Homo sapiens: one gene and its partner. The protein of the gene in region 2 interacts with the protein of the main gene of each other region in a biochemical or structural test. Each region holds a gene or a part of one and is shown on either strand. Other genes may lie near its edges.

The links.
Region 1: the proteins of PACS1 (region 2) and AP1G1 form a complex in vitro, tested with the Homo sapiens proteins (one study listed by IntAct).

What each region holds. Positions count from the first base shown.
Region 1 is NC_000016.10:71,753,064-71,756,876, forward strand, and holds part of AP1G1 (AP-1 complex subunit gamma-1), read right to left. Parts: intron 3,097-3,813; coding exon 2,956-3,096; intron 825-2,955; coding exon 770-824; intron 1-769. UniProt on the Homo sapiens protein: Subunit of clathrin-associated adaptor protein complex 1 that plays a role in protein sorting in the late-Golgi/trans-Golgi network (TGN) and/or endosomes.
Region 2 is NC_000011.10:66,230,603-66,234,415, reverse strand, and holds part of PACS1 (phosphofurin acidic cluster sorting protein 1), read right to left. Parts: coding exon 3,753-3,813; intron 3,612-3,752; coding exon 3,476-3,611; intron 2,245-3,475; coding exon 2,140-2,244; intron 1,457-2,139; coding exon 1,350-1,456; intron 632-1,349; coding exon 477-631; intron 285-476; coding exon 174-284; intron 1-173. UniProt on the Homo sapiens protein: Coat protein that is involved in the localization of trans-Golgi network (TGN) membrane proteins that contain acidic cluster sorting motifs.

The DNA of each region.
Region 1 (3,813 bases), on a different chromosome or scaffold from region 2:
TTTAAATTTTAATATGGTTAAATTTGTGGCTTTTCCTTTACAGTAGCTACTTCTAGTGACTTAATTAATGGAAATGGTTTTCTTTACATGTCACTGCACTTTCATTTTTACTCTTAAATACCTAATCCTTGCCTACTAATTGAATAATAAACACAGAAACCCTGAATTTCTGCAAGAATGCCAAAGAAAGGATCCCATCCAAAACAGGATTTCAAATCCTGAGTAACTTTAGCCATTCAAAACCCTGCAATGGCTTCCTAACATATTCAAAATAAAATGCAAGCTCCCATGAGGCCTACATAGTCTGGCTCCGCTTATGTCTCTGACATCCATCCTACCATTCTCTGCCTCTCTCACTTTATGGCTTCACTTGCCTTCCTGTTGCTCTCCAAGCAAGCTATGCTTGTTCCTACCTCAGGTCTTTGCACTTAGGGTTCCCTCCGTATGGTACACTATTCCTCACGATCTCTGCATGGCTTGCACCTCATGTCTCTTAGGTCTCTACTCAAATGTTATCTCCTCTGAGAGACCTCCCTGACTAACTCTAATCTAAAACACTTGGCCAGTTGCCCTATATCCCACCTTATCCTGCCATCATTATATTCCTCCATGCTGCTTTAGGTTTTTCTTCATGGCATTTATTCCTAACTGACATTAATGTTACCTATTTACTTGTGAATTTCTTACCTCCCTGACTAGAACATAAACTTCATGATAACATCAGTATATCCCAGCACTTCGTATATGCTGTCTGAAAGAAGCTACTTACCGTTGTCAAAACACGCATAATTGTGTCTATATGCCATCGTTTGGAAGGTGCATACCTGAAAAAAACAATGGAAAGGGACACTTGGAACCAGTAAAATATACCGTTTTCAGTGACTAGAAAATCCTGCCCAAGCAGGGTGACTCACACCTGTCATCCCAACATCTTGGGAGGCCGAGGTGGGAGATCACCTGAGCTCAGGAGTTCGAGACCAGCCTGGGCAACACGGTGAAACTCCATCTCACCAAAAAATACAAAAATTAGCTGGGTGTGGTGGTGGGTGCCTGTAGTTCAGCTACTCTGGGAGGTTGAGGTAGGAGGATTGCCTGAGCCTAGGAGGTTGAGGCTACAGTGAGAAAGAAGAGAGAGAAAAGAAAGAGAAGAAACAGAAGAAAGAAAAGAAAGGGAAGAAAGAGAAGAGAAGAAAGAAAAGAAAGAAGGAAAGAAGATGGAAGGAAAGAAGGAAGGAAGGAAGGAAGGAACAAAAAAGAGAGAGAAAGAAAAGAAAGAAAAAGAAAGAAAGAAAGAAAGGAAGGAAAGGAAAAGAAAGGAAAAGAAAAGAGAAGAAAATCCTGTCCTACAGTCTTTTCTAGGTTCCCTGGATAAGTGAACATATCTGGAAACATTTCAACTTCAAATCTAGCAGCAAATGCCATTTCAAAGAGTGATAAAAAGGTATACAGTCAACTGACTTCAGTGGCTCATGCCTATAATCCCAGTACTTTGGGACGCCAAGGAGGAAGGAGTGCTTGAGGCCAGGAGTTCCACACAAACCTGGGTAACATAGCAAGACCCCATCTCTACAAAATAAAAATTAAAAAATTAGTGGCACATGATGATTTGCAGCTACAGTCCCAGCTACTCAGGAGGCTGAGGCAGAAGGATGGCTTAAGCCCAGAAGTCCAGGCTGCAGTAAGCTATGACTGGGCCACTGCCCTCCAGCCTGGGTGACAGAGCAAGACTCCGTTTCTAAAATTAAAGAAAAAAAAAAAAGAGGGTACATAGTCAAACTCAGATGTTTCCCATAAGATTGCAATAAGAGTTGCTAAGCTGAGAAATGAGATTTGTTTTCAGTTTCAGAGAAAATGAATCATTCAGTCAGGGCAGGAGACGATAAAGAAGAAAGAAGAAAAGGGACTGTTTTCAGACCAAGACAACATTTGGACTAAAAACTTGTTTCCTTAAATTCAGAGTGGAAAGAAGAGAAAGAATAGCTGTACTACTAAAATCATAAGGTACTTCCTCAAAATTCTGCATAGAGCTGCAATTCAGGTGCTGTAACTGTTCTATTGCCTTTATTAAAACAGCATCACAGGCCAGGTGTGGTGGCTGATGCCTGTAATCCTAGCACTTTGGGAGGCTGAGGCAGGCGAATCGCTTGAGTCCAGGAGTTCGAGACCAGCCTGGACAACATAGCGAAACCCCATCTCTACAAAAAGAAAAAAACAAACCCAGAAATTAGCAGGGTGTGGTGGCGTAAGCCTATGGTCCCAGCTACTTGGGGGGCTGAGGCAGGAGGATCCCCTGAACCTGGGAGGTCAAGGTTGCACTGAGCCGAGACTGTGCCACTGCACTCCAGCCTAGGTGACAAAGTGAGACCCTGTCTCAAAAAAACCCAAAACAAAAAAAACCAGCATCATAGATGAGAGGTTAAAGAACAGATAAAGGAGAAGATTTCATAAAAGTGTGAAATTTTTTTGGTCTCAGCATATTTAAATGCTGGCTATAATAGCCTTCTCCAAGCTAATTTATAATTGAGGGTTTGAAATAAATGTTATGTGTTTTAAACATATTTAAAGTAGTTTCCCCATTTTTTTTTTTTTGTTTTGTTTTTGAGATGGAGTCTTGCTCTGTCACCTAGGCTGGAGTGCAGTGGCATAACCTTGGCTCACTGCAACCTCCACCTCCCAGGTTCAAGTGATTCTCCTGCCTCAGCCTGCCGAGTAGCTGGGACTACAGGCGCGTGCCACCAGGCCCAACAAATTTTTGTATTTTTAGTGGCGACAGGGTTTCACTATGTTGGCCAGGCTGGTCTCGAACTCCTGACTTCATGATCCACCTGCCTTGGCCTCCCAAACTGCTGAGACTGCAGGCGTGTGCCACCGCGCCCAGCCCCCTCCCCATGTTTTAAAGACACTTCCAAAAGTTCCAAGCAGACTTTACCAATAAAGGTAAAAATTAAATCTTACTTTTCTGCAGCAAGAAAGATTCCAGATGCACAGTCTGCTTTAAATTCTGGCTCACACGAATCCAGAAAATAAAGTAATTCTTTCATCATGCCTCGGATATTATTCCCATTTACCAGGGCAAAACTCAATTCCATTGCACGCCTTGCAGAAGGGAAAAATTAAAAACAGTTAAGAAATTTATAGTGGAAATGAAACAAAGACCCAGGTATGCACTCTGTGAACACCAAGTACTGCCAGATGTGCTGACGTCCTTGCACGATCTTGTGATCCCAATCTTTGCACACGAAATAACCAAGGAGATGTATTCTTACATAATCAAAGTTAGTTTTGATATTTTGAATCTTCATGCAATATTCTTCTTCAAAAGTCCCTACGAGATATACCACTAATGTCCAAACATGCAGCTTGGGTTCAACAGGCTGTTCTACAAAGGTGGAAGTTAGAATACCTGAGAGTCTCAAAAAGAGGGGCAACAAATAAATGTATTACCCAATAATAATACCTATCTGCCTCATTCCTTAAAAATGTGACATGTTAAGTCACCATATTCTACTTTTATTACACCCCACTCTGTCCAAACATGATGTAATATAGTTTATGTCAAAAGGTATGCAGAAAATTCAAATTAAAAACAAATTCAAGGCCGAGCGTGGTGGCTCACACCTGTTTTCTCACCACTTTGGGAGGCCAAGGCAGGCGAATCACCTGAGGTCAGGAGTTTGAGACCAGCATGGCCAACATGGTGAAAGCACTTCTGTACTAAAAATACAAAAATTAGCCGGGCATGGTGGTGGGCGCCTGTAGTCCCAGGTACTAGGGAGGCTGAGGTAGGAGAATTGCTTGAACCCAGGAGACAGA
Region 2 (3,813 bases):
GTGCACAGTGAGCCTCCGCTTAATAAACACTTATGGAAAAATGAATGGACAGAGTGACCGGGAAGGTGAGAGCTGCAGGGAGGAAAGCAGCATGACCTCAGCCTCCTTCTGCAGCCAGGCTGGCACCTGTGGACCCCGGGGGTGGGAGTAAGCTCCTTACACGGGGCCATTACCTGACACTGGTGGCTCCGAGCGACTGAACAGATCTCTCCAACCAGAATCCAGGAAGGAACTACTGTATTTACTGTCGACTGACCCCAAGTATTTGGCCACAGGGTGAGAACCTGGTAGATGGAAAACCAGAGGTGGTGAATTCGTCAGGAGATGAGACAGTGTGGGAGCAGCTGTCCCTGGCCACGGCCTTGGTCTCCTTGACTGTCCCTTCCTAGGCCCCAACCCCACCGTCCTGTTCCAGATGAGGCATCTGTCTATGGAACCCTCATGCCCGACGCCCTCCTGGTGCCTCCCGTCTTTACCGAGGGGGATGATGAGGAAGCGCATGTAGCCAAGCCAGTCGGAGGTCTTGTTGGCCAGGGACTTGACAAAGAACCTGAGGATGGAGCTCAGGTAGCTCTGGCCTCCCACAGCAGCCACCTTCACTGGCCTCGGCATGGAAGAGTTGCAGTTGCAGCTGGGGAGGAAGGGGAGCGTCATAGCAGTGCTCAGGGGTGCCAGGATCCTGCCCGGGGGAGGCCCAGAGCTGACTTTCTGTGATCTCAACAACCCACAGGGGAAAAGCAAACCAATCCACAAAATAAAACAGAGAGGATCATACAGGGAATAAGCCACAGTGCTTTCACAACCAAGAGAAAAATCCAGGGTCAGAGGGCATTGCCCATGAAGCAGACGGAACAGCTGAGGCTAACGTAGGACTCGGCAGTGTGCCTGGGATGCCCGCAGGGTGTGTGCCCCCAGGCCTGGAATCCATAGTTCTCTTTCACAAGGGCAAGGGACTTGGGCCTTTTAAGAAGGCCCTGAGGGTAGGGGAAGCACTGACTCCTGAGTGTCTAGCAGCATGTTGCAGATGGAAGGAATAAAAGATCTTTTTAAAACCAGTGTGTCCTCTCCTTCATCATGGGTTTAAGAGGATAAAGCAAGTCAAGGCATGGCGGGGGTCCAGGCAGGGAGGCAGGGAGCACAGGAATTGATATTTCCACCCCCGATCCTCTGGGGTCTGCCGGGGCCTCAAGCCCTACAGCCTGCTGCCGCCACCCCCCTAAACATACGCCCCTCTGCAAATTCTTGGTCTGATGAGGCCAGGAGGGTCTATCATTGCTTAGAAGTCAGGGTTGGAAGATGAGGTCAGAGGGAATCTCTAAGGGCAGGAGAAGGGAGGCCAGAGCCCTTACTAGCGCTGGATCCGGGTGAGCAGGGCGGACAGCACGGCCTGGACCTCCACGGTGGAGCAGGTGCACACCACAGGCTTCCGCTGGTCCTGGAGCAGCTCAGCCACATACTGGGATAGGGAGGGAGGAGAGCAGGGACACAGGTGAGAACACATCACTCCTTCACAAGGGCCAAGAGGCAAGTGAGACCCAGACCGAGCTGCAGGGCCCCTGTCCTCTGCAGTTCAGACCGAAGCTGGGCAAAGGCAGCCAGGTCTCCGGACTGCCAGTAAGGAGGGGGTGGGGCCGACCCACGAGACACGCAGAGTGTGAGAGATGGGAAGCCTTAGGGGGTTTCACATGCTAGGACACTCCAGGTGTCCCCGGCACCAGTGTCTAAGCCAGGTGGACAGCGGTGAGGGAGCAGGCAGGGATGCTCTGCCTTGCTGACCTGCCTTCATGGGGCAGCCCTGGAGGTTACAGCCGGGTGCTTCTCTACAGGCCTCCGTTCCACTATGCTGCCTGACGCATGTGGCGCCCTGGAGGAATTACTGTTGCTTTTTGTTTGTTTGTTTTTTAACGTATGAGGAAGCTGAGGTAGAGCAAACTTAGTGATTTAAGATCCCACAAGTTGGATAATGACAGAAGTTGGACTAGAACTCAGAGTTCTGGGCTCAGTTCAGAGCAGGTGGGGGCTGATGGAGGGGTGAGTTCCCCACCTCCCCACGCAATAGTATGGAGGCCACACTGACAATGCAACCGGGCATTGCCTGCCCTCCAGGACCCCACATGGCCTCGCAGTTTCAGCACTTACCTGGCCCTGCCAGTCAGTGGTGTTCACCAGAATGACATTTTCTGGGAGGGCTGCATCTGACACCAGGATCTGATTGAGCTGGTCATACACCACCTTTCTTGGAATCTGCAGGAACAAAAGAAAGTGTCTCTTGTTAGGGAGTCCCTGGGGAGCCTGAGGACAGGGCTGCTGGACTGGTGCATGGGGAGTCTCTGGAGCAGGGGTGTTAGAGAGAACAGATATCAGGACTTTGGGAGGGAGACTCAGTCTCCCACTGGCCAGACCACGATGGAAAGGAGGAGAAAGAAGCAGCAAAGCGAGTCCTTAGAGGACACATGGAGATGAGGAACAAAGCCACAGCGGTTGTCCTGCCAGGGCAGGTGGAGAGGATGGAGGTGCAGCAAGCCTCGCGGATGGGAAACGGTGTGGGTGGCAGGAGGGGCAGCAGCGTAAGAACCAGGAAGGGAGAGGCAGAGGGCGGCCAGCAGGTGCTCAGAGAAACAGAAACGAGGGCAGTGGGGAGAGAAATAATGAGAGTGGCAATGAGTGCTGTGTGGGTACCTGCTGTCTGAGGGAACAAAAGGTATTTCAGGAACAGTGATTAACAAGAAGGACAATACCTCACCCCAGGCACTGGGCTATTCTAGTCTCAAGTTCATTTTCAGCCATGTAATAGCATGGAGCTCAGGAGGCCACACTGACAATGCACTTGGTAAGTTATCAGGGGAATGAACAGGCTGGCTGTTTAACCCTAGCAGAACTGGAACTGTGTAAGGTGTGCCGGGAAAATCCCTGTCCCAGATCTCTGACACCACAGGCCTTCAAAAGGAGAACACGATTCCTGAGGCCCAGTTCTTCTGACTTCTTCTCCAGCCCACTCTCGGGTCCTTCCATTGAAACAGTTTAATATTGTTGGCTTCCCGGCTTGAAAGCACGATGACCGCCCACAGCAATACTCAGGTTGGGAGCTCGGGTCAGGATGTCCCATGAGATCCAGAGGCTGCTGTCCTCTGCAACAGTGGATTCACGGCACAATCTCCAGACTGACGTCTGATGGAGGCAGAGACACCGGTGGTGTGGAATCGACACTCGCAGCCGTGGCAGGCCACGACCACACAGCGTTTTTGGCTCCCCTGCCTGCGCCCTAGAGGTCAGCGTGGAAGCCAGTTCCACACTGGCAGTAAGCAAGGAATATAGGAGACCTCTCTAATTTAGTCTTTCTTCAAGAGTTTTTGTTCAGAGCATTTCCAAGTATTCCTCTTCTCTCCAACTAACTGTCCAAGGAAGCCAACAAAACAGAGCCTGAAGTTCAGGGAATCTCAGAGGGTCCTGGTGTTTTGGGGGCACCCAGAAGTACCTGCGTGCTGTGGCCCAGATCTGGGGAGCGCTCGCTGTCGGAACTGTTGGTCCTCTCACTTAGGGGCTTGGAGAGCTGCCGCTCCTTCAGGGGCGTGCTCCTCTTCTGCCGGGGTGTGTGCACCCCCTCCACTTTGCTGCCAGGGAGGTGGAAAAAGGCTGGTGAAATAGCCCCTCCAACCCCAAAGCTGCTGCCAGCCCCGCTTTCCCTCAGCCCTGAAGCCCATGCTAAGCACAGCTGCAGGCTGTACCCCCTGCTTCCTTTCCATCTGCAGTACCTGGGGGAGGCAGAGCCCTGGAGATCCGTTTTACTGGACTTCATGGGAGTTTTGACTTTCT